Regions from separate parts of the Homo sapiens genome. Here region 1 is linked to region 2. Evidence: fine-mapped expression QTL. A gene starts in region 2. The other region holds a variant in brackets. All regions are shown on one strand. Distances are between the middles of the regions.

Region 1 (16,814 bases), 37 kb after region 2:
CACCAAGGAAGAGTTTTTATGCATAAAGATTCCTGTACTCTACCCTAGAACTAATACATCTGAATCTCTGGGAATGGAGTATAACAATCAGATTTGAAAAGGTTTCTTTAGTAATTTTAAGGACTGACCAGTTTAGACACTGCTTTGTTAGAGTAAAATGATTAGGTACCTAGTATCAACCTAGCCATCCAACCTTATATTAATAACTAGGAAAATAAAGGGTTGGAGCCTCTGTGTTTCTTTGTTGAAAAATCTGCTACTATTATTAGATCTGTGAAAACAATTGAAAATTCGGTTATTATCACCTTAAAAGTACAAAACCTATAGATTTTGAAAATGTAATTATTTTTCTGTAGGCATAGTTAAAAAGATTTTGTAAATGTTATAAATCAGTTTCTTTATAAGCGGTTTATTTAGATAAATTTTGTTATACTGACATGATTCACTAATTTTCTAAATATAAATGGTTCAGCTCTTAGTTATTTTTAAACTAATGACCTGTGTTATACTTCCTATTTTTAATGGGCTTTTATGATGTTTTAGGTTTTTTTGAATCCCGTGTCCTTCAAGTGCTTTCTAACTTTGAGAGGAAGAAATTGACCACCTGGACTATGGAACTGTGCGTAACAGCTTTGAAAGTGTATTTAAAAATTAAATCTATATGCCTTTAAATCAGTGAATTGGAAACATATTACATGTATTTTAATGATTTTCCTCAAATATAATAAATTGTTTCCTTTCCAATAAAATAGTGTTTGTATTTTTTCTTTATCTGGTTTAACACATCTAGGAAAACATAATATTATAAAAAATATATATAATTTGTAATATAATTTTTTTATGATTACAAATACTGCCTTTTAAAAATTCTTACCTGGATACCAAAGCACTTTCACATTTTTTTTATTGTAATCTTGTTTTTTGTAATTATTTTATATTTGTCTGGCTTTGAGTTTTACTGGGCTTTTGGTTTTTTGGAAATGGGGGTTTATCCCAATTTAGAAATTTGTATCCTTGCTGTAATACAGTCTTCCATTTTTGTTCCCCCAAATCTTTCATCTGTCAGAACGTCACTCAAAGGTGAAAATATTTCCCACATAAAATTATTCTGTTCCTTTAATGAAATGAGTTTCAGCTGTATATACGTAGGAAAACATTCTTTTTTGTCAACTTGACGTTGACAAACTTGGTGGATGTCAGGAGTAAGGGTATTCAAGAGAATTTTGAAGAAGAATTTAATATAGTGAGTATCGAAGACAACTCTTAAAGAGTCTTGCGTTCAAGGGGTTGTGAGAAATGGGTTGTTAATGGAGGGCAATGTAGTATCAAAAAGCTGTTTAAGATTGATGATATAGCAGGTTTGTATGCTAATCAGACTGATTCAGTAGAGAGAAAAAACATAATGCCGGAAAGAGAGGGATATTGCTGAAGCCATAGACCTGGTATACAAATAGAAGGGTTCGTTTTAAAGATAGGCACACAAACAGCTCATTAGTAACGGTAGGATGAAGGGCAGATTATGGAGTTCTAGATGTCGGTAGTTCAGTAAATAGGAGCATGTCAAATTTTTGTTATATTTTCTCAGAGAAATAGGAAACAAGGTCATAAAGAGGGAGGAAGTCATGAAGGATTAAGGAAGGAAAAGGAGATGTAAAATGGGTATCCAGGAATGTAGGAAAGTAAACATACTCTTAGGCAATCTGTGGTTTATTTAAGTGGTATCAGTCAATGTGGTTTTGTGTTTTTCTCCAGTTGAGTTCAGCATAGGTGCTATCACTGAAAAAGTACAGAATTCAATTTAACTAAAGTTGAGATTTCCCTAGGTGAATAAGACAGTGATGAGATGTTGTTACATTTAAGAGAAAGATAATAAAAGAGAGATATGGAAAGTAATCTGGGTTAAGGAGTGAAGTGAGAAAATAAAGAAGGTTGAGACAGTGGAAAATGGTATCATCAATTGTAGATTGCAGTGTGGTTGAAGATGCATTGGAGTTCTTGAGGTACAAACTAGAAATTTGGGAGATTTAAATAAGAGTGGGGTGGCTGAAATTGAAATTAGAGTATAATAATATATAATAGTACTAAGTATAGTATACTAAGTATAGTATAATAGTACTAAGTATAGTATACTAAGTATAGTATAATAGTACTAAGTATATAGTACTTAGTGATTATAAGTTTTAGGATGTGAGGATGGGAGTAGCATAGAGGCAAGGTGATGGAAGGAGATGAATTCAAGAAATTGGGAACCTAGGAGATTGAAAGCATTATCTAAATGAATTTTGAAATCTCAACAAGAACTGTGCTGAGTGCTTTTTGTAATTATTTTATCTTTACTACCCTGTGAGAAGACAGCACTTCCTTTTGTGAGTAATGGAAAGCTCTTTAATGTGTCAACTGTAAGATACTTTATTACATTTAATTATCTTTAGTAATTCATGCTAACAAATAATGACCTCAGTAGGATTATTCAGTAGATATGTGAGCTAACCCCCTGTGTCAGACACCTAAGAGATACAACTGATGATTTTCAAGAAGAATAGAGTTCTCATCCCAAGTACTTAAGCTGCAAAATGTCCCACCCTATATTTTCTGAAAACAAACGGTATATAGAGCGTCCATTTAAAAGCTAATAGGAAATCTTAAAGCGTGCGCGCGCGCACACACACACACACACACACATACATACATACATACATACACACAAAACATTGAATAAGCATCAGGAAATATATACCCTGTACCCAACATGCACAAGGTCTAAGCAATGAAGAAAAAGCCAGGATATCAAGTAAGACTGGAACATCTGTGACTAATATATAAAGACTTGAGGTGGTTGTATCTATTTAAAAGGTTATCAATTAGAAATTAAGAAAGAGGCCAGGTGCAGTGGCTCACGGCTGTAATCCCAGCACTTTGGGAGGCCAACGCAGGTGGATCAACGTGAGGTCAGGATTTTGAGACCAGCCTGGCCAACACGATGAGACCTCGTCTCTACTAAAAATACAAAAAAAATTGCTGGGCATGGTGGCTCATGCCTGTGGTCCCAGCTACTCGGGAGGCTGAGGCAGGAGAATCATTTGAACCCGAAGGTGGAGGTTGCAGTGAGCCGAGATTGGGCCACTGCACTCCAGCTTCAGTGATGGAGTTAGATTAAAAAAAAAAAAAGTATTTTACATAAGAAATTTTAATTTTTTGTAAATTATAAAATAGCACTTAATATGGTATTTGTATACCGTGATCTTTGAATATCCAAAATTTAAGAAGATGTGAGCAGTTTTATGAAACTTTTCAAAGCTTAGAAAAAGGTAACTACATAAAATTCCATTATATGTTATTTATGGGAACATTAGATGAAGTAAGTCATAAAAACATGCATAGAAATGATCATACAAACTTGGAAGAAATTGAATGTCTTGCTATCGAAGGAAAGGATGGAGGTGAGAAGCTCTATATATTGTATTTTTCTTTATATATTTAAACTCGCATTTCTTATTTTTCAAATGTTCACTCCAATGAAAATTCTTTTATTTTTCCTGTTAGTTTTTATTTCTGATCTCATATATGCAATATACTATTGTTCATAAATATTAGTGATCCGCCCTGCAAATGAAATACTCCCATCCTGTTGAATTTGGGAATGTCCATGTGATTTGTTTTGGCTGTGAAATGTGAGCAGAAAGATTGTTTTACTTTGGGGAGTTCCCGATTGCTAAAGCATGTGTCAAAATGAAGTTTTTGTGACATTACAAAGGGACTAATAAGAGTGCCTTTGTTGATCCTAGTTGAACATGAGAAACTTGGTTATTGTAAGCCACTGAAAAATTTTAGTTTCTTTTATTACTGCAGAATAACCTATTCTGTCCTGATTGATACAGCCACAACATTTCCTTAAGCTCTTTGATTTTCATATTTCCATTAGGATGTAGAAAGTCAAGAGAAGAATAAATCATAGGATCAGAGAATATTAACAGTGAAAGAGACTATTGGAATGAACTTGTTCAATGGTCCAGACTTTGGGTTCTAAATAATCAGTAATATTTCAAAAAAAAGTATTAAAAGATATTTCAGTATAAAAAATGATGACATTTAACTTTGTAAACAACAACAACAAAAACCTACCATTGCTGGGCATAATTAGTCATGCTTGTAATCCCAACAACTTGGGAGGCTGAGGAGGGAGGACCACTTAAGCTCAGGAATTTGAGGCTGCAGTGAACCGTGATTGCATCTCTGCACTCCAGCCTGGGTGACATAGGGAGACCCCAACTGAAAAAAAAAAAAAAAAAGCTGTCATTAATACATTTTTCCTCTGTCTCTCTTCCCATCCTCCTTACCACTTAGTCTTTAATCTTATTAAACAAGATCTAAGGATAAGACAAGAGAAAGGATGGTTGCATCTATACTGAACATGTATTGAGTTTTTTTCGTCATTATTTTGTAAACAACATAATATAACAAGTTTTGACATGGCATTTACGTTGCATTAGTTATTATAAGTAATCTGAGATGATGTAAAAGTTACATGCAAATACTACATTGTATATAAAAGACTCGAGCAGTTGTTGCTTTAAGTATCCATGGTGGGTCCTGGAACCAATTCCTCATGGATATGGAGGGACGAGGAACCACTGTAGTTAAACAAATAATCACTTTAAAACTTAAAACCTTTTGCATGGTGAATACAGTCGTGCACCGCATATATGATGGTGGTCCAGTTAAGTTTATTATGCCATATTTTTATCGGAAGTTTCCTATGTTTAAATATATTTAGGTACACAAGTACACTGTGTTACAGTTGCCTATAATATTCAGTACAATAACATGCCTTACAGGTTTGTAGCCTAGGAGGAATAGGCTATGCCATCTACGTTTATGGAAGTCCATTCTATGACATTTGCACAGTGGCTTAATTACCTAAGGGCTTTCTCTTCAGAACATACTCCTGTCATTAAGCAATGCATGACTGTAGTTGGACAAAAAATAATAATACAGGCATACCTTTGGCACTGTCCTAATTCATACCAGCATTCATGATTACTTAGATTTACACTGGGAAGCCTTCAAAAAGCAGTGATATATTAGGAAAATATATTTGCAATACATGACAAACGATAATAACATAAGAACTGGAAACATTCAATAAGAAAAATAATAAAAGCAAAAGAAGATGGAAAAAGGAAGCAAATTTCAAGAGAAAACTCAAAAGGCCAAAAAATGTGAAATGATGTTCAGTCTTGCTAGTAATTGGGAAAAGCACAAATCATTTTTAATCTATTAGGCAAAAATCAGAGCGATAATATTTTTGGTGGGAGTGTGACAAAAGGTACTATAATATATTGCTACTAGAGAGTAAAAACTGACAGGTTTGTAAGGGCAATTTTGCATAATATGAAAATATAAAAATGTGCTTCAAGTTTCACTACGTTTAGTCTACAGAATTACCTATGTGTAAACATGTATACAGATGTTCATTATAACACTTCTTATAACAACAAAATATTTGGAAATGTTCATATTAACAAGTGCATACTATATGATCTTAGTCCAATTAGAATATTCTTTTTTATTTCAATCCTTTAAAAGACTCAACTTCTGACTGTATATAGACAATTAAAAAAATAATGTGTTCTCCGTATGTGCATTTGGTCAGGTTAATTAAAACTTGTTGAAATCTGCCTGCTCTTAATAAGGTTGTTAAAACTCTCTCATAATTGTAGATTTCCCTATTATTGTACTGTCAATATTTTTGCTTTAGTAATTTTAAACATGTTATAAGGTGAGTAAACATATATTTGTTGAATTTCTAGTCAGAGAGTCAAACATTTTTAATTATAAATGTACAACCATTTTACTGTGGTATTAATTTTGCCTTAGATCTTTGTCCAATACTAATAAAGCCTCACTGTCTTTCCTTTGGTTAGAATTTACATCATTTATTTGGTTCTAGCTTTACCTTTACCTTTTTTCTATCTGTTTTTAAAAAATCTGTCTAAAAATGCATTTAGCAGAAACATTTAATCAATTTACATTGAATTTTTTTTACCCTATACCACAGGAATTAGGCACATTTTCTGTTTTGTTAATGATTAGCACTGATTATACCCATGCATATTCTCACAGTCCAAAGTTAATGCCTATGTCCATTGCCAAAGACAATAATGTGACCTTAGAATACTTGAACACTGTTTTATTCCAGTTTGCAGTTGTTTTTATTTTTGAAATTACTTCTGTATTTTTAATCCTCCAAGACATTATTTTTGCAGAATTTTTTCTACTGTTAATCTTTTAAAAATTAATCAGATTAAGCAGAACTCAGGTTTTAAAATATTTTCATATAATATTTTATTTGATTTTTCTAACAATCCAATGAAAGGGAATATAAGACTGATTAGTAGGTAAGAGCTCACTGTGGAGTTAGGCTTCTTGGCTTTGAAATTCAGTCCCAACATGTACTACAATTTGACCATTAATAAATCCCATTATTTAATTTTTTAGTGTTTTTTTCTCATTTTAAAAATGAGGATAATCATATTTCTATCATGTAGGGTACGCGTGTGTGATAAGTAAAAGTGATAATGCATAGAAATGGCACATAGTAACTATATGTTGTTAGTGGTTATTTTATTTTTATATTTATCAACAATATCTTCATTTCCTAATTGAGAACCTAGTATGAAATCCATAGACTTTAATTTTTTTCTAAGGTTCATACAGAAAAAAATGTACATGGTGAAGCATCTAGTAGATGGTGATGCATGGAGTTAATTTTTTTTTGGTTTTTTGTTTGTTTTGAGACGGAGTCTCATTCTTGTTGCCCAGGCTGGAGTGCAGTGGCGCAGTCTCGGCTCACTGCAACCTCCACCTCCTGGGTTCAAGCAATTCTCCTGCCTCTGCCTCCTAAGTAGCTGGGATTACAGGTGCCAGATACCATGCCCAGCTAATTTTTGTAGTTTTAGTAGAGACAGGGTTTTGCTATGTTGGCCAGGCTGGTCTCAAAGAGTTAAATTTTTGATTTAGTGACACTGCTTACATTCTAGTCTCATTTAACTAATTTAACCCAGCCCTATGCCAATCGGGTCTTTAAGGTTATTTTATTTTATATGGTTATTTTATTTTTAAGGTTATTTTATTAAGATTATTTTATTCCCTATATGTTTATTATCTATATATTCCCTATATATTATAAATATAAATGGTTCAGGGAAAAGAAATAGAGATTGCGAGAGGATATTGTAGAAAAAGGAAGGAAGACAGAAAGCAGACGAGATATAGTGTAGTAAGAAGAGGTGGCAGGGCAGCAAACTGAGCAGAGGAGAGAAGACAGTGGTTTGCTTAGGAAACAGGAGTGTGGTGATCAACCTGTTGTAATACTGGAGTTCAGAGAAGATTCCTTGTACAAATCTGATTTGGAGAATTGGAGTAGGACTCTAGGGCCACATATTGAAAGTAAGAGGTTATAGAAAATCTATAAGATTCTAAATTCAGCAATTTTTTTTCCAACTGAAGAAAAAGCAAAACCAGAACTGTGAGATTTTTATTTTATGATTGTAAAACACTCAACTGTGGGTTTGGGAGATTGCTGATTGAGAGAAGTTAATGTGGTAAGTTGTTTTAATGTTTTTTGAGTATTATGTAAGTCCTCCTCCAACTTTTTGTCTTGAAATAAGTGGTTTCTGTCACATGATTTGATATAGAGTTTCACAATCTATTTTCAGTTTGTTGACAAATCATGTTTCAGTGCTGTGCAGTACAAAATGTACTATTTATATTGAAAATGTGTCTTAGCCTTGGCTCAAAAGGTTTCTCTGATTTCAGAGATCTGTTAGGCAAACTTGATTATCTGTGCTTTCTTTTCTCTAACCTTTACATTGCAACTTATCCTGAGTTCAGGTTTATTTTCTTTCTTATTTTATTTTCAAAAGAAAAACAGAAAACTGTTGGGGGAAGGGCTGGTGGTTGAAGGTTTACTATTTTGAGAAAATTGTACCTAATTTATTGCAAAACTCAGAGGAATTAAGACTTTATTTTTTAGTAAGAGAAACAACTAACTTGATCAAGTTCATAAATGTGACATTAAGGTATTTCAGTTGTAATTTTTAATCACACTTAAATTACTTCCAAAGATATTTATAAGGCATCTAGGCTAAGAACTACGAATGACATTAATAGATAACTTGTCTTTTTTTTTTTTTTTTTTGTCAATGTTAATTCATTTGCATGTTAAAAAACTATAATATCTGGTATAAATGTGAGGCTACTTTGGATAGGGGGAAAGAACTTGTAAATAACTGATAGTTATATAAGTAGAAAGGGAGCTCTAGAAAGACAAGTTATTTGGAAGTTGCTACTTTCTGCTTAACAATAGAGCTCTTTCATTTTATTTAAGTCAAGGCTTTGGTGTGATTTAAGTAGGCTTTGAGCTAAATGATTAAATTTATGGTACTTGATGTGTCAAGAGGGATACTGAGTTTACACTAGAGCCGTTTCCCTATAATGCCATTTATATTATGGATGTCAAAATAGATACCTCATATATGATATTGATTGAAAAAATACTTTTGAGACCCTCAGAAACTGGCTAATTTTGAGTTAATTCTTGATACCGGATATATTTTATTTTTTATATGAGCCCAAATGAGAAGAGAGAATATGTTTTGACACTCCAAATATAAATCTTTAGTGACTATTGCTTTGTCGTCAGGATATTATCAAATGTCCTATTTCATATTCTTAGGGAATTCCCAAGATATGTCATTTGGCACATGATAGTAACCGTTAGAGCTTTAGAGTAAAGGGAAGTTTTCTCTTTGTAGAGCATTCTAGGAAGTACAAAATATGGGCAATAATGCCGTATATTACTAATAACTGAATAGCTTCTCTAAGGATAACTCTTTTAGAATAACTATTTCAGAAAGTAGATATAACAACTATTTTAAATCCTTATTTTTGTGTTTTTGATGCCGAAGATGCTAAGAATTGTTTGTGCAGATTTTTATTTCAGAAGACATAAATATACTTTAATTGTTTTAATGCTTCTCCTATGGGGTATATAGCTCTTCAGATTGCTTGTTTGAGGTGAAAATTAAGATCAAATGAGAAAATATATGATAATGCCTGACTCTTAGTAGAAGCTTATTATATGTGTGTCTAACTCTACCTTTCATGCAGTGCTAAATTCCCTAAATTATATCTGCAAATTATCCCTTTTTTTTTACCAACATTCCAAATGCATTGTGAAAAATGCTGATTTGCTATTACAAGAACAGAGTTCATTGATCTGGCATTGTTGAAAAGTATATTTCAAAACTACCATGGATCTGCCAGAAATCCTAAGCGAATAAGCAAGAAGAATACTGTGAGGGAAGGAAGGAAAAAATTGCAGGTAGAAAATATTGGTGATTCTTTTTCATCTCTGTCCATTCCTTTACTGGAAATGAAAATACTTCTGAGAAGTAGAAAGTATTAGAAGTTAAGAAGGGTAGAATGGGAAGACAGAATGGCCAAGTGTTAGTAGAGCGAAGGCGGAAAGACAGTATGAGTTGATAGGATTTTTAATAGGACCAGGTAAAAATATCAATACAAAAATAACATTATCAACCATATTGAGCTTTTACCATATCCATACATTGGGATAACAGCTTTATTTGCATTATTCGTTTAATCACAATAACTCTATGAGGTAAACATTACTTTTTCTAGTTAATAGATACATTTAGAGAAGTTATTTTCCAGCATCACACAGGTTATAAATGGAAAAGTCAGGATTTATAGTTTGTCTTAACTCCTAATAATTGCGTTTTCACATTTGGAACCTTGAGTCAAGCATGAAGTTCAAATGGTGCCCCTCTTCTCTGTCAACTCTTTACACCATCAGCCCTGTATCACTATCTAGTCAGTCTTCTATTTAAATTCTGATACTCACCCGTATCCAGTTAGTTTGTTGTACTCCCTGCAAATTTTCCTTCCCTATTTGCTTTTAAAAATCATCTCGGGTAATAAAACTCCCTTTGCTACTTTGAAGGCACCTCTTTATTATCTCCTTCCTACTCCCTGTACCCCATCATTTATAAAGCTTGGTGACTTCATCCAATATCTTTTTTGGTATTTTGTCAGCCCTCAAGGGTACAACTCTCCAGGCCTGATAATTCAGCCAGTGTACACTGCCCTCTGTATAGTAGTTGCTTAGGGATAGCATCTGTTCTGTTCAGTGTCTGTGTTAAATCAGTTAAGTATTTTTTGTTCCATTTCTTAGACTGTCATTGCTTTGTTGAAAACTACCAATTCTCTGCTTCTTTCTTCATATCTTTTTTTAATTGTTTTTATATACCCATTTGTTTTAAAAATGGTACCTCTAATTCAATATGTCCCCATATTCATCGGTTTCTCTAAACCAAATCTGCCTTTAGATTGCACTATCAGTCATAAAGACATTGCCATTCTAATATTCACCCAAAGTTTAAATCACAGAGTCCCCATTTGACTCTTTATATTCTCTATTCTCTTATATCTGATTAACCACCATTTTCTGTACAGTCTCCACCAAGTCTGTTATATCTCCCCTCTCTGTTTTACATAAACATTTCCCCTCTATTCCAGGGGTATATGTTCCAAGACCCCCAGCAGGTGCCTGAAACCACAGATAGTACCAAGCCTTTTGCAGTCATCTCTCCAGTATCTGTGGGGGATTGGTTCCAGGACCTCCCATGGATACCAAAATCTACAGATGCTCAAGTGCCTTATATAAAATAGCATAGTATTTGCATATAACCAATGCACATCCTCCTGTATACTTTAAATCATCTCTATATTGCTAGAGATGTAATATCTACTGTAATATAAATGCTATGCAGATAGTTACATTGTTTAGGGAATAATGACAGAAAAGTCTATATGTTCAGTACAGATGCAACTATCCTTCTTTAAAAATATGTTCTTCCACAGTTGGTTGAATCTGGCGATGTGGAACCCATGGATATGGAGGGCTGACTATATACACCATGTTTTTTCCTGGCACATCACTCAACTACTATTAGCTGGCGAGTCAACTCACGTTGTTGGAATGACTAGGGACAACTAGACTTCAAGTGATCTTTCATCCCAGGTAGGCTCACAACACAATGTATGATCTCAGAGTTCCAAGAGATCAAACTCCCTTCTGCAAACCCCAGTCAAACTTTGCTTGTGTCTTGTTTGCTGATATCCCATCGGATAAAACAAATATCAAGCTAATTCCATAGTCTTTGTAGAGAGAGACTTTATATAGGTATGGATACTGGGAAGTGTCATTCATTGGATGCCCTTTAATATAACTATCACACTTCCCTAATTTTCATTCTTACTGCTGTAATCCTAATTCAGATTTCTGTCACTGCTCTGCTTACTAATGTTCCTATCTCTTTGTTTTCTGGTCCATCTGATATAATTAAAAGTTTTTATTATTACTTTCCTGTTTAAAACAACCAAAAAACCTTCTGAGGTAAGTACTTTTTTCTTCTCCCTGATTTTGAGTGTCCCCAATATACCTTTCCAAATTTAACTGTCATGTCTCCCTCACACTTGACTTGTTTCTAAAACACTGTATTGACTTCTTGCCATTTTCCTTGCTCTTCTACATGTTTTTCTTACTTAAAAGCAATTTTACCTATCTCTTTTCATTGATGTCAAACCCATTCTTCAAGTCAATTTTATCTCCCCTTATTCCCATCTGTCAGAAAGAACTTTTCCTACCAATTAAATCCTGAAGCACTTAATCGTAACCCTCTTAAA[A/G]CTATGTTCATATCTTTCACTTTATTGTTTGTTTTTGTGTATGGACATATCCCTTCTCTAACTGAACATAACTTCTAGAACAGCTCTGTCTAATACAAATAGAATGTAAATCATATATGTAATTTAACGTATTTTACTAACTGCATTAAAAGAAACCAAAAGACACTAGGGAAATTAATATTAATGGTAAATTCTGTTTAGCCTAATGTATCACAGTATGTTATTTCAACCTGTAAACATCATAAAAATATATTTTTTTACTTTTTATTTTCACACTATCCGAGTGTGTTTTACACTTACTACTCATCTCTGTTGAAACCACATACATTTCAACTGGTTAGTAGCCAATTGTTTCTAGTGGCTACCATATTAGACATCACAACTCTAGAATTCTAGGAGAAACATTAGTGTAGTACAGAGAATGTTGACTTGCAATCAGACTTATTATCAAATCCTGTCTTTGTCACTTACCATATGAGCCTGGACAATTTACCCAGTCTGTCTGGGCCTTAGTTCCAACATGTGTACAACACTTTTGCTAGGATTAGAGTCAAGTTTATTGCACAATTTCTAATATAGAGTTCATTGATTTTTAGAAAATCAATGAGGACATAACCCATGTTATGCCAATGTTTTGCACAATACCTGGAACCTAGAGTTTTCATGTTATAGCCATTTATTGAGCACATAAGACAATGTCAATCATTTTACTAGGATTTGGAAATACTAGATATGAAGTCTAACTTCAAGAAGCTTGGTCCAGAATGACAGACAAGTAAATTGTTAATTATAATATACTTACAAAAGAAGTCAAATATAGCTTAATGTCATATAAATTAAGAAGCTTTCATACAACAGAGGAGCTAACTATGCTTGAGAATATGAGGGTAAGCTTCATAAAGTTGTGGTTTCAACTTAATGTGGAAGGAAAAGTAGTTGCTTCCACACTAAGTTGGATGTGGAAGGGGATGATATGGGAAACAAAACCACTAGGAAATTCATGAAGGTATGATATTTCATATAAAATATGAGGAACTTCTAGTTTTGCAATGAACAGAGTTCACAGGATTGGCTGGCGGAAGGACCAAAGGGCAGCATCAGGATCGACAGTGGAATAGTTAAGATCCACAGCTCTCCTGATACCCTTCGTCAAAGCTGGTACTTCCTCATTTTGTCTCATGTTAAAAAATGGTATCATCCCCAAATACCTATATCTTTAATATTTTTCCTCATCCTTCAGCTCTAATCTATTCATAAATCTACTGCCTGTTTACCTCTGAAATATACCTTGTCTATGCCCTAGTCCAAGCCACTCACCTCTTTCCTGGACCACTGTAAAAGTCTTCTAACATCTACCCCTTTCCACTCTTATCCTCCTATAATCTGGTTTCTTCCCAGAAGCAGGGTGATTTTCTTTTAAAGTTTATTAGTCTTTCAGTTCCCCATGTCACAGCCTTAACAGCTCTCTCTTTCTTCATGTTCTACAAGGTTCTACATGATCTGGCCTACCTCTCTGATCTCATCTCATTTTATCCCACCCTTTATCACATGTGCTCTAGCCACACTGATTTCTTTTTAATGTGTCTTATGTACTAGCTTTTTCCTTTCTTGGGACATTACTCTTGCTCTTTCCTCTATCTGTTGCTCTTTCTCTGATCTCTAAATGACTGGACACTTCTAATCCTTCAAATCACATCATAAAGTCACTCTTTTAAGGGATGTCTTCCCTTACCATCCAGTCTATAATACCCTGATGGAAAAGTCACTTTCTATTTTATGATTTTATACTAGTTCTTATTGCTATCTGAAATTATTTTTATCATCACTGTTAGTACTGTTGCTATTACTGTTATTTACTAATATATTTTCTTTTCTTTCCACTAGAATGTAAGTTCTCTGAGAACAGAAACCTGTCTTTTTCATAATTGTCTCCTGAACATCACCTACAGTGCTTAGCAAAAAGCAGACACACACTTAACACTTGTTGAATGGATGGATGAAGTTTTTCCTACCTGTACTATTACTCCCTTTCATAGCATTTCACTTACATTACATTAAGAAGGAAAAATTACACAAATTTATTTATTTAGCATTTTGTCAGGTACAAGAAATATTTGCCTACAGGGAGAAAACCACCACCACCACCAATCCTACTACTATATGCACTATATTAAGCACATGAGTTGATCAAGGGGAAAAAAGTTAGTTTCTCCAATTCATGGGCTTTGAGATTTTAAACGTTTTCTTAAATCATTAATGGAGAAATTTAAATAACCAAAACTTTGAATTAAGGATGGGAAACAGGGCTGATTTTAAAAATGGAAATATCACATAATATGTCTGTTTGAAATGGAAACATGACAAAAATTTGAAAATAGTTAAATATTTTGAGAATTCAGTTGGCTTCAATTGTTATTTTCTATTAGTGACGGATATCACAAACAAAAGACAGTCCTTATTTGTTATTAGGATTTATATATATACACACATATATAAAGACTATATAGACTATATATATATACACTGCATTATATATATATGGAATATATATATGTTTGTGTATATATATATGTTTGTATGTATGTGTGTGTATATATATATGTTTGTTCTCATGCTGCTATAAAGAAGTGTCCAAGACTGAGTAATATATAAAGGAAAAAGATTCAATCCACTCACAGTTCCACATGACTGAGGAAGCCTCAGGAAATGTACAATCATGGTGGAAGGGGAAGCAAACCCATCCTTCTTCACTTGATGGCAGGAAGGAGAAATTCTGAGCAAAAGGGGGAAAAGCCCCTTATGCAACCATGAGGTCTTGGGAGAACTCACTCACTATCATGAAAACATCTGTATGGGATTACCGCCCCCATGATTCAATTTCAGTTACCTCCTACCAGGTCCCTCTCATAACACATGGGGGTTATGGGAACTACATTCAAGATGAGATTTGGGTGGGGACACAGCCAAACCATACATATATACATATATACACACACGCACACACACACAGAGTCTATATATACATACACACACACACATAAGGACTGTGTAGATATGTGTGTGTTTGTGTATATATATATATAAATACAGTCCTTATGTGTTTAAATATATATTTACTGTCCTTATTTATGTGGGTTTGTGTGTGTGTGTGTGTGTGTGTGTGTGTGTGTGTGTACACTGCCAGAGGTTTAAAAAGGTTAAGATTTTATCAGTAAGAAAAAACCAGTCACCTCTGCCAGCCCATGCACCATGTTGTCCTGCCGCTCCACTGTCCCACTCCTCCACCAGTCGCAATGGAAGAAGAGATTGCCGTACTGGTGATTGACAATGGCTCCAGCATGTGCAAAGCTGGCTTTGCTGGGGACGACAACCCCCAGCCATGTTTCCTTCCATCATCGGTGCCCCCGGCACCAGGGCATGATGGTGGGCATGGGCCAGAGGGACTCCTATGTGGGCTACATGGCTGAGAGCAAGCACAGTATCCTGACCCTGAAGTACCCCCATTAAGCATGGTATCATGACCAACTGGGATGACATAGAGAAGATCTGGCATCACACCTTCTACAAGGGACTGCACATGGCCTTGGAGGAGCACCTGGTGCTGCTGACCGAGGACCCCCTGAACCTCAAGGCCAACAGAGAGAAGATGACTCAGATCATGTTTGATACCTTCAACACCCTGGCCATGTACGTGGCCATCCAGGCTAGGCTGTCCCTCTACACCTGTGGTTGCACACTGGCATTGTCATGGGCTTTGGAGATGGGGTCACCCACATGGTGCCCATCTATAAGGGCTACGCCCTCCCTGACACCATTCTGCATCTGGACCTGGCTGGCCAGGACCTGACCAACTACCTCATGAAGATCCTTACCAAGGTTGGCTATAGCTTCAGCACCACTGCCGAGCGGGAGATCAGACACTACGTCAAGGAGAAACTGTGCTATGTTGCCCTGGACTTTGAGCAGTAGATGGCCACTGCCACATCCTCCTCCTCCCTGGAGAAGAGATATGAGCTGCCTGATGGCCATGTCATCACCATCGGCAATGAGGTTGCAGTGTCCCGAGACGCTGTTCCAGCCTTCCTTCCTGGACATGGAATCTTGTGGCATCCACCCAGACCATCTTCAACTCCATCATGAAGTGTGACGTGGACATCCGCAAAGACCTGTAGGCCAACACGGTGCTATCTGGTGGCAACATGTACCCAGGCATCACCGACAGGATGCAGAAGGAGATCACCACCCGGGCACCTAGCACCATGAAGATCAAGATGATCGCATCCCCAGAGCACAAGTACTCCGTGTGGATCAGCGGCTCCATCCTGGCCTCACTGTCAGCCTTCCAGCAGATGTGGATTAGCAAGCAATAGTACAATGACTTGGCCCCCTCCATCGTCCACCGCAAATGCTTCTAAATGGACTGTGAGCAGATGGCTAGCAATTGCTTCATGGGTTAATTCAGAAGTAAAAATTTGCCCCTGGCAAATGCATACACCTCATGCTAGCCTCACCAAACTGGAATAAGCCTTAGAAAATAAGTTGTCTTTAAAGCTTGTATCTGATATCAGCACTGGATTGTAGAACTTGTTCCTGATTTTGACATTGTATTCAAGTTAACTGTTCCCCTTGGTATCTGTACATATCTTTGATTTCAGTCTTTAGTACATGTGGCTTGGTCACTTCATGGCTAAAAACGTACTTGTGGAAGACAAGTCTGGCTTGGTGAGTCTGCATGGCCAGCAGTCTCTGATCTGTGCAGGGTATTAATGTGTCAGGACTGAGTGTTCTGGGATTTGTCTACAGGCTGGTAAGGGCTCCTTAACCAGTTGTTTCTGTCCTGTCGGTCTGTCAGGGTTGGAAAGTCCAAGCCATAGGACCCAGTTTCCTTTCTTAGCTTCTGTTGTCTGCCAGAACACCATGGGCTGTTACTCGCCTTGAGTTGGAAGCGGTTTGCATTTATACCTATAAATGTATTCATCCTTTTAATTTATGTAAAGTTTTTTTGTATGCAATTCTCGATCTTTAAAGAGATGACAACAAATTTT
Region 2 (16,814 bases):
GCTTTGCACCTGGGTGGAAAATTGAGGCTGCTTCTCTGTGTCAAAGTACCCACATAGCTTAGCTCTTCAGGCAATAGTGGGGTGTTCCTGTCTCACTAACATAATTTCAAAAAGCAAAATTTCTGACAGTTTGTAATTTTTACAGAACAAAGTTTTTCAATGCTGTCACTGGAGTTAATTGACAAAAGAAATCATTTCATACTTTTACACCACTATAGCTTTTAGTATATTTTATTAAAGTTTAATTTTAATACCTTGGTTTTGATATGAGTCAGGAGCATCCCTCTCTTGTGACTGAATAAGGGGGAGATCAGAGGTACTTAGAGAGTTAAGTGAGGGAAAAATTGTCATTTTGTTCAGGCCACTTGTAAGTTAGTCCTAAGAAGTTTGAGATTTCCTGGAAAATAATTGACATCTAGACCAGCAAATCACTGTAGGTGGTAGCTGGACTCTATGTGTATAGGGCCATACCCAAGAGGTTTATCTGTTGGGGTGAATGACTCAGAGGGGTTAGAGGCAGGAACTGAAGAAGAATCGTAAGAGGTCAACCAGCAAGTATATTACTGATATCATGAGACTATATGGCATAAATGCTGCAGGGCCCTCAAAAGGACAACTAAGGTGACCCATATATTTGGTTGCCTGCCTTGATAGGACATCAACAGCAAAGAGAGAACTACTTTTCCCAGTGGATTCTAAAGCAGAAAGAAAAAGAGATGAAGAAAATGAAAGAAAAGACTACGTCACCTTCCCCACCATAGGTTCCCTGAGCTTAGAGAAGGGTGTATATTTAGAAGTGAGATTAGTATTAAAAACTGAACTGAAAGTGAATCTTAATTATAAATAATAGATTGTTTTTAAAATCAAAATAAATAGGAATGCTAAGGGTGACTGCAGAGAAGGGAGATCCAATAAAGCATGTTGAAATTGTAAAATAGTTTGTTTTGTTTTCTGATTTTCTTTTGGTAGCCCCATTAGGTCCAGCTAATTCAACCTTTCAGCATCTGTATGTAGATGCTTTTATTTCTATAAGATAGATTTGAAAAGCAGAATTACTGGATCAAAAAGTATGGTAACATTTATCCAAATAAATATGAAGATTTACTTTTCTAAATGCCTGTGACAAACATTTGCCCTCATGCACACACCTACATTAAATTTTATAGCTATGTATAATGTTTTCCAGTTTGAGAACTGAGAATTGGTATATTCTTGTGGGGTCTAATTGGCATTCCCATTACCAATAGTAAGGTTAAACACCTTTCCATATGTTAATGGGCCATTCAGGTTTCCTTTTTGTAAAATCACCTGTTTATATTCTTTAAACACATTTTTCTATTAATTTGTCTTTCTTTTTCCAATTTTTTGGTACCAGCTGTATTTTCTGACGTTTTTACGTAAGAGAAGATAATCTAGCATTGTCACATTACAGAAAAACAACTACTTATGACAGTACCATTTATCAGGTGAAACATTTTCTCTAGGCATCTTCTGAAATGTTTAGTACATTTTAATTTTTTGATTGACTAATGTATTAGTCTGTTTTCATGCTGCTGATAAAGACATACCTGATACTGGGAAGAAAAAGAGGTTTAATGGACTTACAGTTCCACATAGCTGGGGAGGCTCCACAATCATAGTGGAAAGCAAGGAGCAGGTCACATCTTACATGAATAGCAGTAGCCAAAGCGAGAGTGCTAGTGCAGGGAAACTTTTTTAAAAACCATCAGATCTCATGAGACTTATTCACTATCACAAGAACAGCATGGGAAAGACTCGCCTCCATGATTCCTTTACCTCCCACCGGGTTCCTCTCACAAAATGTGGGAATTGTGGGAGTTACAATTCAAGATGAGATTTGGGTGAGGACACAGACAAACCATATCAACTAATACTTAAATGTATAGGTTTATATTAAGAAAAATAGCCTTCCAGGTTGCATACATTAAAAAAAATGTGCCATCCAAATGGATTCCAAATTGTAAATGGAGTTAAGAAAGTATTTTAGAACAGGAATATTTTTCGGGTGCTATTTCCCTATCTTCTCTAGATTCCATCCCAGAACAGAAGACATAAGCAAGCTATACCCCATAAGAAAAGGCTAATTACCCCTGCAATAGCCAAAAGTTCACATAAATCCTGCCTCTGTTCATTTGTTATTTAAAGGCAGAGACTAAGTCTACAAATAACTATGTGTGAGATCCACACATAATCTAATCTATCAATAAATAACAAAAATAATATTGACATTTTAACTTTCTGATCATTTTGCATAGAAATCTTTAGACAGGTTTCCTAAAGTCATCATGCAAACCACTGAATATGTAATCCCTGGTTGTCAGCAGTGTTTTTTATTTTCTTGATAATAACATTAATTTATTCACTGATAAATGTTTTAAAACATATGTCAAATATTCACTAATATATATTTTAACATTCAATGATCATTAATCTATTTGTAAGGTACTATGTTAATGCTTGGAAGATATACAGACGAATATAGAAATTCCTGTCTTCAAGGAGCTTATTAGTAATAATGAAATTATGTACATAATTATTTATAATAAAATATATTTATGATAATTTTATAACAGAGGTGAAAAGTTCTACAATAACAAATGGGATGAAGACATGAATTCTACCTTGGGAAAAAAGAAAAGACTTTGATGATGTTTGTTTTAAGTTACTAAGTAATTGGATGGCTTATTACACAGTGACAACCAAAACACTGAAAAATCTAGTGTTCAGGTTTTTTGTTGTTGTTGTTGTTATTGTTGTTTTTGTTTCCTTTGCCAGTATGGGAAGAGAATAGAGGAGGCAGAGATGGTGTTGACTGACAATGAAGAATTTAATGAGAAAGTCATATGTAAGCATCTGAAGAAAGTCAGGGAGCTAAGCATGCAGATATCTGTAGGAACAGCATCCCTGAAAGAGAGAATGGTAAAGGCAAAGGTCTTAGTTATGGGTCTGAAGTGTTCAAGCACAGCCAGAAGGTCAGTGTATTTATAGCAGAGGGAAAGAAGAGGGGAAGAATAGATGAAGTCATAAAAATAATATACTGGAGGAGTTAGATCATGTAAATTCTCACAGATCAAAATAACTTCAGCATTTACTCTAAGTGAGGGGGAAAGCTACTGCAGAGTTTTGAAGATTTAACAGAATCACTCTAGCTGCTGTGATAAAAATATATTGAAGAAGCAATATATTTTTAATCATGTTAAAATGGACTTTTCATGGTAAAAACTAGTCCTAAGCTATCAATACCTTTAAGAGAAAAAAGTTATTTACTACTTATGCAAAGTTTGGTGGGAGGGAAGTTATTCTGTAGGGGAGCTGTCATTGATGTGGTGAGTTGGTACTCTAGGCTATGTTTAGCTTGAGGTTCTATCACCTCAATATGTGGCCTACATGATCACTGTTTTCATACCCAATCTTCCATGCAATACTCTGGAATTGACACATGTTGCTTTCATTAACACCCCATCTACCAAAATGAATCACATAGTCCCAACTAACAACAAGAGAGTTGGGAAATGGAAAGGAATATATGAAATAATTGTTGAGTCTTACTGTGTCGTCCAGACAGAAAGGGCAAAAGTAGGAGACTAGCCATGAGGCTATGACAATATTCCAGATAGATCATGGCTGCTTGGACAAGGATGGTAGAAACAGTGGGAACAGTGAAAAATAGTCAAATTTTGAATATAATTTGAAGGTAAGATAAAGGGAATTTGCTGAATGTCAAGGCATGAGATATAAAAGATATAAAGGAGTCACAGGTAACTGAGATGGGAAAAACTGAAAGAAAAGTTTTGAATACTATCAAGAGCTCAGTTTTAGGCCTGTTAGTTTTGAGATGCTTATTACACAACATTGAGAAAATGTCAAGTAAGCAGTTCAATATATGGATTGGGAGTTTAGAGAAGAGGTTCAGGCTGAAGATATGATTTGGTAGTCATCAATGTGTGGTTCTTAAAGCCATAAAACTGAATGAGATGACTTGTCCAGTACAAGTAGGGCAAAATGAGAAAAGATTGAGCATGGGAAACTCCAGCCTTTGGAGGTCAAGGAGATGAAGAGCAATCAGCAAAAGAAACAAAGAGAGTGATCAGAATGATAGGAGAAAAACTTGGCAAGTTTGGTGTTCAGCAAGCCAAATGAAGGGAGTTTGGTTTATTGGTTGTTTGTAGGGTGTTTTTTGTTTGACTGTTTTTAGAGCAGAGTAAACAACTGTGTTTGGTGAGCAATGCTTATAGATCAAGTAGGATAAGATCTAAGAAATTACCACTGGATTTAGCAATGTGTAGAGGTCACTGATGACCTCGAGAAGGGCAATTTCAGAAAAACAATTGGGATACAAATCTGATTGGAATATTCTAAACAGAATATGGGAGAAGAAAATTGGAGACAACAAATATAAACCACCATTTCCAAGAGTTCTGCTATTAACAGAAAGAAATGGAATGGTAGCCAAAGAGGAAAGTGGAAAGAAGAGAGTTTTTAAAAATTATTTTATTTGCTTTTGGCTTTTTTAAACAAAAGGGTAAATAATTGCATTTGTATACACTGATGAGAAAGGCTCAGTAAAGTACATGAGAAGGCAGGAGATTTACTTCCCGAGAGAGGTTAGCTTAACCAAGACTCACAGATACAGTTAGGATTAATAGGTATGGGAATCCTCTATAACTTGGTTCACTTTTTTTCCCCAAATGAGATTAAGAAGCAAGGTCACCATCTAAGAATGAAAGTGGGAAGGATTCAAGGTGACAGGAAATAGGAGAAAGCATGGAGTCAAAGATTTACTAGAGTAAGGCAATGAGAGAAAGTGAGATCGAACAGTAGGAGAAGTGGTGTGTTTTGGAAACCAAGGGAAGATAGCGTCTCAACGAAGAAGTGGTCAAGTATGCCAAGCATTGCTGAGAAGCTAAAATGAGAACTGAAAAGGCCTATTAGATTTAGTAACTGGGAGGTAACTAGTGACCCTAAGAAGAACTACCTTGTGGACTGATGGGATCAGAAGTCAGGAGCACACTTTGGAGTGAATGGGAGATGAAGAAATAAGAATAATTATGTCTCTCTCTTTAGAAGCTTGGCTATGAAGGGTGAGGGGAATGCTTTTGGCTAGAAGCCAGGACAAATATTGGGATCAACCCTTCTCCCTATTGTAGTTCTCCAAAGCATGCCAGAGATAGGACCCAGCAGTTTTCCTGTCTTCATGCGGAAAAATGGGGAGTTTGGGGGTAAAAGGGAAGATGTAATAGGGAAGTACAAGTAGCCATGTGGTCAAGTGAGGAAAACTAGGGACATAAACCAAAGGAAGCAAAAAAGGTAATTCTGTCTGAGAAGGTACTCAGTAACATGGAGGAACTGATGAAGATGAAAATTAACCCAAGAAAACCACCACATTAGCGGGGACCTCCATCAACACACAAAACCCCTGAGAATAAGAATGAGATAAAGAACCAACAATTGCTCAGTGAAGTCAGACACTCCCAAGCTCCACTACTTTTCCCGCCTCCCATTCCCCAACATAGAAAATCAAGACTGAAAATGAGTTAAATTCACAGTTCTCAAACTGTGCTAAGGTGCCCCAGGTACCCTTGCCACCTTATAGAGGTACTATAGGATATTTTAAATATTTGAGGGAAACATAGCAATACTCACTGTTTACCAGACACTACCTGAACTACCAGCTTGAGATGTTTCTCAATTTGAACATTAGATACTGTTTAATTCCTTTTAAGAATGTCATATATTTGAAAAGCTGGGTTTTTGGCTGTTGCTCTCATATAAAACAAGTGCTTCCTGGAAAACCAGAGTGGAATAGGAAATAAGGTGGCATCAAGGGGTGCTAGAAAAAACTGCTGGGACAATAAAGCTACCAATAACTGAAAAAGTTTGGCAACTTCTGGGCTAGACAAAGAGGAGGGAATGAGAAAGGTACTTCTCAGATACGACCACACATACCTACACTCAGACACAGAAAAGATTAGAGTGTATTACATATTCCTGCAATCCTTTAGGTCAAGCCTGATATGAGGGGAGTGTAAGAAGAGACACCTTAATGGAGTTTGGACTTGACATCTCTAACCAACTGTACTGATAGCAACTGAAAGTGACTAGAAAATTATGACCTCTACCTGAGATATTGTCAAGGAAAGGATAAGGTAGATTTCATTGAGTACAACTAAAAGCAATTAAGTAGAGAGAAAATAAAATTCTGTCATGTAACTATTCCACTCAGTCATGATACCTGAATTACAGTAGATAATGACCATTAAACTCTGCCTGATAGCCCCTGTAGTAATTCCTAACCGTAGGAGGCAGTGGTAAATATAAAAGTGAATTCCTTCATGCATTCATTCATTGAATAGATATTTACAGAATGTGCACTATGTCTGGAACATTTTACTAAACATAAGAGTCACAGGGAGGATGTGACGGTCATTTTGCATGACACCTGTCACCAACTGATCCCAACAGTTGATTTGGCTGATCTGGCTAACTAGCTGGGTTCCCCTTCCTTCCTAACTGCCCCATATATGTCTCTTCCAAAGCTGCCCACTCGGCTGAGGAGGATGACTTACCCCCATAAAGGAGGATGATTTTTCTGTAAGGGCATACGTGTAGCAGTGCTCCCTTGCTAGAAGCTCCAAACAAGTCTTCAAAGAACACACACAAAAAAGCCGCTGAAGGATAGTGTTTAAAATAGCATGACCACTCCAATCGGTTTATAACACTACCCTATTTTTTCCAAAGCACTTATTATTCTCTGAAAAGAACTTTATTTACATATTTATTCTGTCTTGATTTTAGAAAGTAAGCATTGAGAGGGCAGGAATTGATTGTCTTCTTCTTCTTCCTTGCCTCAACTTCTCAACATCTGCATGTCCCATGACTCCATTATGGGCACAATTCTATCTATACCCTTTGTCATTCTTCAGATATAAATACCATATAGGTTGATGCCATACCTCGTGGTAACCTTTCCCAAGAATGCCAAACACACACATTCAACTTCCTACTTGAAACAGGGATACTGAATAGATACCTTAAACTTAATATATGTTCCTCTATTCCCAATGTCCCACTACAGTTTCTAACCTAGCTATACTTGGTCAATCTTCTCACATTCAGTAAATGGCATCATCATCTACAGATGGATAATATCTAGCTTAAGCCAAAAATCCAGAATTTATCCTTGCTTACTATTCTTCATCTGCAAGTTCCTATCAACTACTTCTAAAACGTATCTCAATTCCAGTTCCTTCTCTACATGTCCACTTTCACCAAACTATTATGGTAGTGTTTTTCTCCAGACTTCTACAGTAGTCCAACTGGTCTTTCTGCTTCTGTTTTTTGCATTGCAACCGGAGAAATTTTCATACCTAAACTTTGATTCTCTCCCCTCAACACACACCTACTTAAAGAATTTGTCAGTTTCTAAATGTTCCTCAAATAAAAAGGGCTCCTAACAAATCTACAGCGTCTACGTGGTCTGGCTCTACCTATCTGATATTTTGGTGGGTGTGTGGGGAAGGTTCTTCTCATGTTTGTCTTCTAGTTTTCATTAATATCTGTCTCTCTCCTTTTCCCCAACCAATGCGGGATGACAGCAGATTGCTGGTATACTGCTTACTGCTGTATCTCTAACATTTATTTAAGTGGCAAAAAGAACTGTAAGAGGAACTCTGGTTCTCCAGACTGTAGCAGCTACATCTAGCATAAAACCTCTCTTTAGAATCCTCAAGGCCCTCTCTGTATGGGGTGAGGGGTACATTCCTGACCCTCCGGGGATGATCCCTGCCTCACTCCATTCAGAATCTAGGCAGAACAGTGGATTAGAATGTAGACCCCCAGTCAGAACACCAAGGGTCAAAACTTAGTTCTTCCACTTTCTAGCTGTGTGATTTAACCTCTTTGTACATCAGTGTCCTCAGCTGTAAAATAGGGAGAAAAGTACCTACACCTACACACACACACACATACACACACACACACACACACACCCCTACACACACACACATACACACACATGCAATAATTTATTTATTAGGTTACCTCTCCCTAGAGGCTGCCATTTCTGCGAAATGAACCCTGGCAGGGGCCTATCCGTCTGCTAAATGCCTACTGATTCAAGAAAAAAGTCTGAACTCTCAACGTTTTGCCCCTTAAACTGAGTTCTCCTCCCTACAATGGTGTCTAATGAGTTGACAGAATAACTGGCTAGCTTTATATTTTACCATCTAAATACTGTAAGAACATACCCGGTATTTCCACACCCAAGTTCTCCTCCTTGCTATTCAGGCCAATTCACTTTCCCAAGGCCAGGGATTAAGAGCCGCACGGTCAGCTCCAGATAGCGCTCGCCGCCGTGCGCCCCGCCCCGCCGTGCGCCCCGCCCCGCCGTGCGCCCCGCCCCGCCGTGCGCCCCGCCCCGCCGTGCGCCCCGCCCCGCCGTGCGCCCCGCCCCGCCGTGCGCCCCGCCCCGCCGTGCGCCCCGCCCCGCCGTGCGCCCCGCCCCGCCGTGCGCCCCGCCCCGCCCTGTGACGGTCCCAGCCCGCACATGCGCAGTCGTGAGTCCTCTTGTCCTTGAGCGTCAACCTTCTTTCCCTGAAGTGGCTGGGGTTCCTGTTTCCTTCTTTGATTGACAACTTGTGTTAACCCTCGCACATCTCTGGGCCAATTTTTGCTTGTAAGTCTTTCCGGAGACCCCTGGAATTTAAATCATTAGCACCGCGCCCTTCCCCGAAGAGTCTTCGAAGGGTTGCCGCTTTTCGGTGGCGCAGTTCTCGCGAGAAGGTGACTTTCTTTCTCGGTATTTCCTGGTTTCCAGAATCCTTAGCGCGAGGCGGAAAAAATATTTCTCCCAGCTTGTGTTGATGCCGCGATTTTGACTGAGACTTCTTCCCACGATTTCTGTTTTTGCTTCTCCAAGGAAAATGGCAGCTCCCGAGCAGCCGCTTGCGATATCAAGGGGATGCACGAGCTCCTCCTCGCTTTCCCCGCCTCGGGGCGACCGAACCCTTCTGGTCAGGCACCTGCCGGCTGAGCTTACTGCTGAGGAGAAAGAGGACTTGCTGAAGTACTTCGGGGCTCAGTCTGTGCGGGTCCTGTCAGATAAGGGGCGACTGGTAAGGGCGCGCCCCTCCGGAGTCTCCCGGGAAGGCATTTGGGAAGTGACCGGGGAGGGGGAGCGCTGACAAGAGTAAAATGGAAACGAGTGGGGAAGATGGACTTGTGTGATGAGAGCTCCCCCATCCTACCTCTTTTTTATCAAAATATCTGCTCTGCGAAGTGGAGTTTTAATCGGCTCGAGTCTGGATTAGTCATAGCACTGCAGAAAAGGGCAAGTGAGAACGACAAAGCAGAAGAATGGAAATTAGCTTAGTTATATTGAGTTTTCGGATCCATCCTGAGAGCCTCACAACTTTTTTGAATTTGGGGTTATTTCTCCTGGACTCAAGAGTATTCTTACAAATGTGCATCAAGGGATTTTTTAAAGTCCTACTTCATTTATAAGCCAATGTTAAATCGTTCATTAAAATAGAGGAGAAGCTACATTGGTGACTTGCGTAAATTAAATGCAGAATTTCAACTAGAAAAAGAGGCTTTTCATAAAAATTTCCCGATGACATCTTTTAGGGAACAATTTTTTAGGGCTGTTAAGAGTACCTGTGTAGGAATTTACACAATTACTTTGTTTTGCTTTATATCCAAAGATATTTTAGATTTCTCTTCATTAAAATAGGAATAGCGATGGTGCAAGACTCAGTGGTTTTAAAGTTTCCCTAGGTGATTTTAATGTTAATGTGCAGCCCAAGTTGAGAGTTACTGAATTAGAAGAAAGACCAATTTTGATCAGTTTAAATGTCACTTATGCCTGCAAATTAAAAAAAAAAAATTATATATGGCTCAATTTAAGTACATCAGGTCATCGTGTATCAGATTAGACAAAATTAGAATGTGCGATATAATTATTAAAGTAACTTTTAATAAGCATTGACCAGAGCTCTTCCTTAGCATAGTGATTCTTTTACTGTTGATTTGTGTTTCTTTTCTGATGGTTTTTAAAATCCGTATAATTTATGTTTAAAAATAGACTTCTCCCATTGAACATTATTACAAAGATAAAGCACAAAGGAAATATGCACCTTGAAGAACGATTTCTCTGTTGGTGAATGTTTTTAAACTACGCATTGTTATGTATAGAGGAAAGTTTAAAATCTTTAGATCTGTCATAAATGAAGGAAATAAATTTTTAGTTGGTTAAAAGTGACCCTCTGTGTAGAACAGGTCTTTAAACTTTTGGTCTTTTGAACTATTTGCATGTGTAAAACGTGTGTCTTTATATGATAGAGGTTGCATAGCTTTCATCTCAAGTCTGACTCAAAAAGTATTGAAAACCACTGGACTGAAATTAGTAATCAGTTAAATGGTCTTGAGTTTTCATCCTTTCCCGTGATTTTATTAACATGTCACATTACTCCACTGGTAAAAAGTCAGATTTCTTTGTGAGAAACTGAAATTATATTGGAAGTAATTTGTACCTTAACTCTGTTTCAGAAACATACAGCTTTTGCCACATTCCCTAATGAAAAAGCAGCTATAAAGGTATGACTTTTTCTTGACGATTAAAGTTGTCAACAGGATCCTCTTATACAATCTTGGTTCAGATAATGTTTAACTGTGGTTTTTAAGAAGCAAAAGCGTTTGTATTCCAACAGTTTCCCCAACAGACTACATTTGATTTGTCAGTTGGCAGATCTTGCCCAGTCCTTTAGTAGATTATCTATAAAGAAAAACTAACTGCGTATGTAATTAAAATAACAATTTCTAAATGATTTAGATTGATAAATATCTCTGTGACTGTTACAAGGTAAGATGTTTCAAGTGTTAAAAGGAGAATATACATTTCTTTATAATGCCAGGGAATCATTCACAGGAGGTGATCTTTTAGCTAGAAGTCTAATGATTAATTGGATTTTTTCAGAAGGAAACAAGTGGAGATGGGCCTTCTGGGCTTGCAGAACACCAAATAAAGCTGTGAGACATTGGAAGTTATAAGTGGAGCAGGAGCTAAGGGTTGAGATGGAAATGGAACTTGAAAAATAGATTTGAGTCTGGGAGAGAGGTATTGAGTTTGGTTTAGTAGGTGGACACTTGATACTTTTGAGCTGGCTCATAATATGATCAGGCCTGTTAAAGATATCTGGTATAGTTCATATCATGGATTGGATGTGCAGAATTATTAGAGGTAGGAGACCAAATGGAAGGCTGTTATAATGGCCAAGGCAAGAATAACTATCTGAAGAAGACAGTAAGAAGACAAAGGGGGAAGTAAATATATATTCAATAGAGATTGAGTTTGTAGGTTTTATAATATAGGGGTTGAGAGAGAATAGTTCAGGATATTTAGATTGAGGATTGAGTTATTTGGGTTGTTATATTAGCTGACATGAGGATCCAGAGGATGTTTGCAAAGGCATAGGATGAATTCACTTGTCATCTGTTAACTTGGAGGGGTCATTGGGCTACTTTTATGGAAATATTTAAAAATATTAATGAGAGCTGAGGCAAGGTGAAGAATGGAAAGATTCTTCAACCATGTGAATAGATATGTTTGCCCAAAGGATAATAAGCTAGGAGAGAAGAATGGGAAGGAGCAGTTAAAGTAGGAGAACTAGAAAGGAAATTATCACTGATGCAAAGAGAAGTGTGTTTTAAGAAGATGAAATCCTGTGATGATGCAAAATGAGGAATGAACACATCTATTAAAGTCTTTTTGCCATGAAACAATAGAAATGACCCAAATTCTCATCGGTAAAAGGAAGGGAAGCCTTAAATCACATTATATCCATATACTGGACTGCAACTGTCTGAGAATGATGTCAAATGGTATGTGTTAATATGGAATGATAGCCCAGATAGAGTACATGAATAAAGTTGTGAAACATTATATATGATGTAACCTCAGATTTTTTGAAACTAATAGTATACATGTTAGCATATACACAGAAAAAATATGGCAGAACTATACACCAAAATGTTAAAAACATCTTTCTCTGAGAGTAGGATTACAGAGGGCTTTCATATTATATTAATATGTACTTTTATAATGGTAGGTAATTTTTTTTCAGAAAAAAAGTATTTTTAAAAATATATCATAATACATTGTAAATAAAGTATGGTAATGAAAAACGCATTGTTTTAGGGTCAAGAATAACTTGGAGGAGAGGACATGGAGCCAGTCATTGTCTTTGGAAATGTCTGTAGTGAAAGGAAGCAGTAAGAGGTTAACGGCAATATTGATAGGGCTTTTAGGCTAGAGAGCATTTGGCCTAATTGGAAAGTGATAGATTAAGAAAACAAAGGGAGAAATGTTCAAGAATAGAGTAAGTAGCCGAGTCAGGTAGGAGGAGTTAACATTAAAAATGAAAAACCATAAATCTTTGAAAATAAGAACATATGTGATACCCATTTGAGAAGAAGAAAGTTGGAGTAAGTCAGGTTAGATGACCTTCATTTCAGATAATCAAGGCTTCACTGATAATAAAGAGGTCTAAAGTTCATTTAGGGTCTTGAAAATTATTGAAACATTTTAAAATTAACTTTGTATGATGATGTAAGGCAGGGATCCTCAAACCCTGGGACACAGACTGGTACCCAGCCACGGCCTGGTACCTAACCACCACCTGTTAGAACCTGGGCCGCACAGCAGGAGGTGACTGGCAGGCTGAGGAAGCTTTATCTCTATTCAGGGCGACTCCGCCTGGCTGCCTGAGCTCCACCTCCAGTCAGATCAGCAGTGCCTTGGCCCCTGTTGTGAACTGCACATGCAAGGGATCTAGGTTGCGCTCTCAATGAGAATCTGACTAATGCCTTATGATCCGAGATGAATCAGTTTCATCTCGAAACCATCTTCTCCCCACCCCCCACCCCAGCCTGTGGAAAAATTGTCTTGCACAAAACCGGTCTCTGGTTAAGGCTTGTACTTTCATGTGTTCAAAAATATTAAGTACCTACTATGTGCTAGATGCTGATTTAGGTTTTGGGATTATATGTGAAGACAAAGATGATTATAGTTCATATTCTCAAAAGGGGAGACAGACAATAAATAATAAACTTTAATATTTTAGAAGATGATAAATGCTATGGAAAAAGGACAAGTAGAGCAATAAGATCAGGAGTGCTAAGTGGGGAGAGGTCAGGCTGTAGTTAGGGTTATATTTGAACAACAATTTGAAGGATGCGAAGGGAGTTAGCTAATGAAATTTCTGGGAGAAGTACCTTTGAATTAGAGGAACAGCTGGAACAGGGGCTCTAGGATGTGACCATGCCTGTCACGTTGTTCAAGGAAGCCACTGTGACTGGAGCAGACATAGTGGGAGTGATCTGTGGGAGCAGGAGTGGGAGTGATCATTGGATTTGAAGTCAGAGAAGTCATAGAATCTATATTATGTAGATTATAGTAAGGAACTTAGATTGCTGTCAGTAAAATAGGGAGCCATTGGAGCAAGGGGGTGACCTTGGTATTTCAAAGAATTGCTTTTGCTGTTGTGACTAGACTGAAGGGAGGGAAAGGTAGAAACAGGGAAATCCGTTAAAATATTGTGGTAATTCAGTCCAGAATTGATGGTTGCCTTGACCACAATGGTAGTGGTTAGCGGTGATTAGATTCTTTATATATTTTGAAGGTAGAAGCAAGGATTTCTTACTGTATTTATTCCAGTAGGTTTTGGGGGAACAGGTGGTGTTTAGTTACATGAATAAGTTCTTTAGTCGTGATTTCTGAGATTTTGATGTACCTGTCACCCAAGCAATATACACTGTGCCCATTGTGAAGTCTTTTATCCCTCACCCCCACTCCCAACACTTTCTCCTGAGTCCTCAAAGTCCATTGTATCATTCTTATGCCTTTGGGTCCTCATAGCTTAGCTCCTACTTAGGAGTGAGAACATACGATGTTTGGTTTTTGATTCCTGAGTTACTTCACTTAGAATAATGGTCTCCCATTCCATCTAGGTTGCTGCAAATGCCATTATTTTGTTCCTTTTTATGACTGAGTAGTATTCCATGTTATATATATATATACCATAATTTCTTTATCCACTCATTGATTGATGGGCATTTGGGCTGGTTCCGTATTTTTGCAATTGCAAATTGTGCTGCTATAAACGTGCATGTGCAACTGTCTTTTTTGTATAATGACTTATTGTCCTCTGGGTAGATACTCAGTAGTGGGATTGCTGGATGAAATGGTAGGTCTACTTTTAGTTCTTTAAGGAATCTCCACACTATTTTTCATACTTACTGTACTAGTTTACATTACCACCAGCAGTGTGAAAGTCACTTTCACCACATATTCTGCCAACATCTATTATGTTTTGATTTTTTCATTATGACCATTATTGCAGGAGTAAGGAGGTATTGCCTCATGATTTTGGTTTGCATTTCCATGATCATTAGTGATGTTGAGCAGTTTTTCATGTTTGTTGGCCATTTGTGTATCTTATTTTGAGAATTGTCTATTCATGTCCTTAGCCCATGGGATTGTTTTTTTTCTTGCTGATTTGTTTGGATTCCTTGTAGATTCTGGACATTAGTGGTTTTTTTGGATGTATAGATTGCAAATATTTTCTCCCGCTATGGGTTGTCTGTTTGTTGATTGTTTCTTTTGCTGTGCAGAAGCTTTTTAGTTTAATTAAGTCCCATCTATTTATCTTTGTTTTTGTTGCATTTGCTTTTGGGTTCTTGGTCATGACGTCTTTGCCTAAGCCAATGTCTAGAAGGGTTTTTCTGATGTTATCTTCTAGAATTTTTATGGTTTCAGGTCTTAGATTTAAGTCCTTGATCCATCTTGAGTTGATTTTTGTATAAGGTGAGAGATGAGGATCCAGTTTCATTCTTCTACATGCGACTTGCCAATTATCCCAGCACCATTTGTTGAATAAGGTGTCTTTTCCCTACTTTATGTTTTTGTTTGCTTTCTGGAAGATCAGTTTCCTGTAAGTATTTGGGTTTATTTCTGTGTTCTCTATTCTGTTCCATTGGTCTATGTGCCTATTTTTATACCAGTACCATGCTGTTTTGATGACTATGGCCTTATGGTATAGGCAAACAGGATTTCTTAATGACTTGGATATGGAATGTAGGAAAGAAGCATTAAGGATGATTACAAGATTTTTGACCTGAATAATTGGAAGAATGGAGTTGCTATCAACTGAAATAGAGATGGCTCCTGGTGGAGCACATTTGGGGCTGGGGGAAAGATTAAGTGAAATGTTGAATTTGAAATGTTTGTTAGATATCTATGGGGCGCTATCCATTATTTGAATATGTGTTCCTTGACTTCAGGACAGAAGTCTGTGCTGAAATTATAAATTAGTGAATCATTAGCATACAGATTTAAAGTTCGGATGCTGGATTAAATCACCAACATAATATGTTGAGAGAGAGAGGAAGACCAGGACAAGAGCTCTGGAGCATTCTAACATTAAGAACGTGAGAGAAGGCACAAGTCAAAGAGATGGAGGAGTACAAACCAGCGAGCTAGGAAGAAAACTAAGAATGTATGAAGTCTTGAAGCCAAGTGAATGACATGTATCCAGGAAGGAGTGATTAACTATGTTAAATGCAACCAAGTGAAGACTAGGAGTTGATCATTAGCCCAACAATGCAAAATTTGTTGTCTATGATAAGCAGTCTCAGTAAACTTATTAAAGCATTAACCTGATTGAAATAGGTTTGAAACTGAATAGGCAGAGAGGAGTTGTAGATAGAGGGTTTAGATAGCTTGTACAGAGTTTTACTGCAAAACTAATAATACAAATTTAGGATGGGAGAAATAGGAGCATGTTTTCATACTGATACGGATAATCCAATAGAGGACAGTAAATTAACAGTATAAATAAGATCACCCTCCACACCCCTCACCACACACAATTCCAGAGCATAGCTAAGTAAAGACCCTTGAGGAGATGAGAGGATGGAATTTAGTATATAAGTTAAGCAGCTGGATTTAGATAGGCATGTGGATAGTTAATAGATGATAACAGATAGCATGCATATGCTGGTAGATGGGGGGTTATAGTGGGAGTCTGATATTCTCATGTCATCAATTCTGTTGTCTCAAAGTAGAAAACAAGGTGCTAAGCTAACGGAATACAAGAAAAATATTGTGAGGTTAAGGAACAAGGAGAAAGTACAAAATACTCTCTGAGATATAGGTGGAAAAAATAGACTAAGATTGTAATAAGTAATTTTGTGGCATAATTAAAAATCACCCTGAGATTTGTGGTAGTTTTTATAAATTGAAAGTGAGGCCAGGGAAATTTGTTAGTTTGTTTTCTAGCCATTTTCAGCTGCCTGGGTATAAGCAGAGCTGGCATAAAGTGGGATTTAGCTAGATTTTTATTTTCCTAAGTTATAGGAAGTAGTCCTTTAATAAGTAATAAAGGCTTGATAGCCTGAGATTAAAAATAAATTAGGAAATAGTCAAGGAACTGTTTACAGCATTAGCAAAAAAAAAAAAAAGTATAAAAATTGGTCTCTAACGAATCATTTTTGGTACAATTGTGAAATGTTTACTCTTGTTCTTTTAACTGAAGGCATTGACAAGACTCCATCAACTGAAACTTTTAGGTCATACTTTAGTCGTTGAATTTGCAAAAGAGCAAGATCGAGTTCACTCCCCATGTCCCACTTCAGGCTCTGAAAAAAAAAAAAGGTATGTAGATCAGTAAATCATACATTTTTGTTACATTTTTAAAGTGTGTGTTTTTTTAAATCAGTTATACAGTTATTGTATTGTT

Direction of the effects. Alleles are on the strand shown, and positions count from the first base shown. SD is a standard deviation of normalised expression in the study named.
For the expression in skeletal muscle of the gene that starts at base 8,571 in region 2, A is the low allele of the variant in region 1 and G is the other (small effect, 0.33 SD a copy in GTEx).

The links. PIP is the estimated chance that this variant, and not a neighbour inherited with it, causes the effect.
Region 1: its variant is fine-mapped to the expression of RNPC3 in skeletal muscle (GTEx, PIP above 0.99). The same link has a PIP of 0.9 or more in subcutaneous fat.

Annotation. Positions count from the first base shown.
Region 1 is chr1:103,554,491-103,571,304 of GRCh38, forward strand. RNPC3 (RNA binding region (RNP1, RRM) containing 3) reads left to right here. Exons shown (of 15, transcript NM_017619.4): 15 at 544-749. It also overlaps a transcript of AMY2B not described here and the pseudogene ACTG1P4. Among named protein-coding and RNA genes, the nearest start is that of AMY2B, 8.7 kb to the right of the region's middle. RefSeq lists a silencer at 3,000-3,218. The variant A/G (reference allele first, on the strand shown) is at 11,770.
Region 2 is chr1:103,517,129-103,533,942 of GRCh38, forward strand. RNPC3 (RNA binding region (RNP1, RRM) containing 3) reads left to right here and starts at 8,571. Exons shown (of 15, transcript NM_017619.4): 1 at 8,571-9,134; 2 at 10,567-10,614; 3 at 16,611-16,729. The coding sequence starts at 8,943. It overlaps RNPC3-DT (RNPC3 divergent transcript), which reads right to left and starts at 8,380. Exons shown (of 4, transcript NR_168321.1): 1 at 8,268-8,380. It also overlaps the pseudogene RN7SKP285. RefSeq lists a silencer at 8,363-8,462 and an enhancer at 8,783-9,022.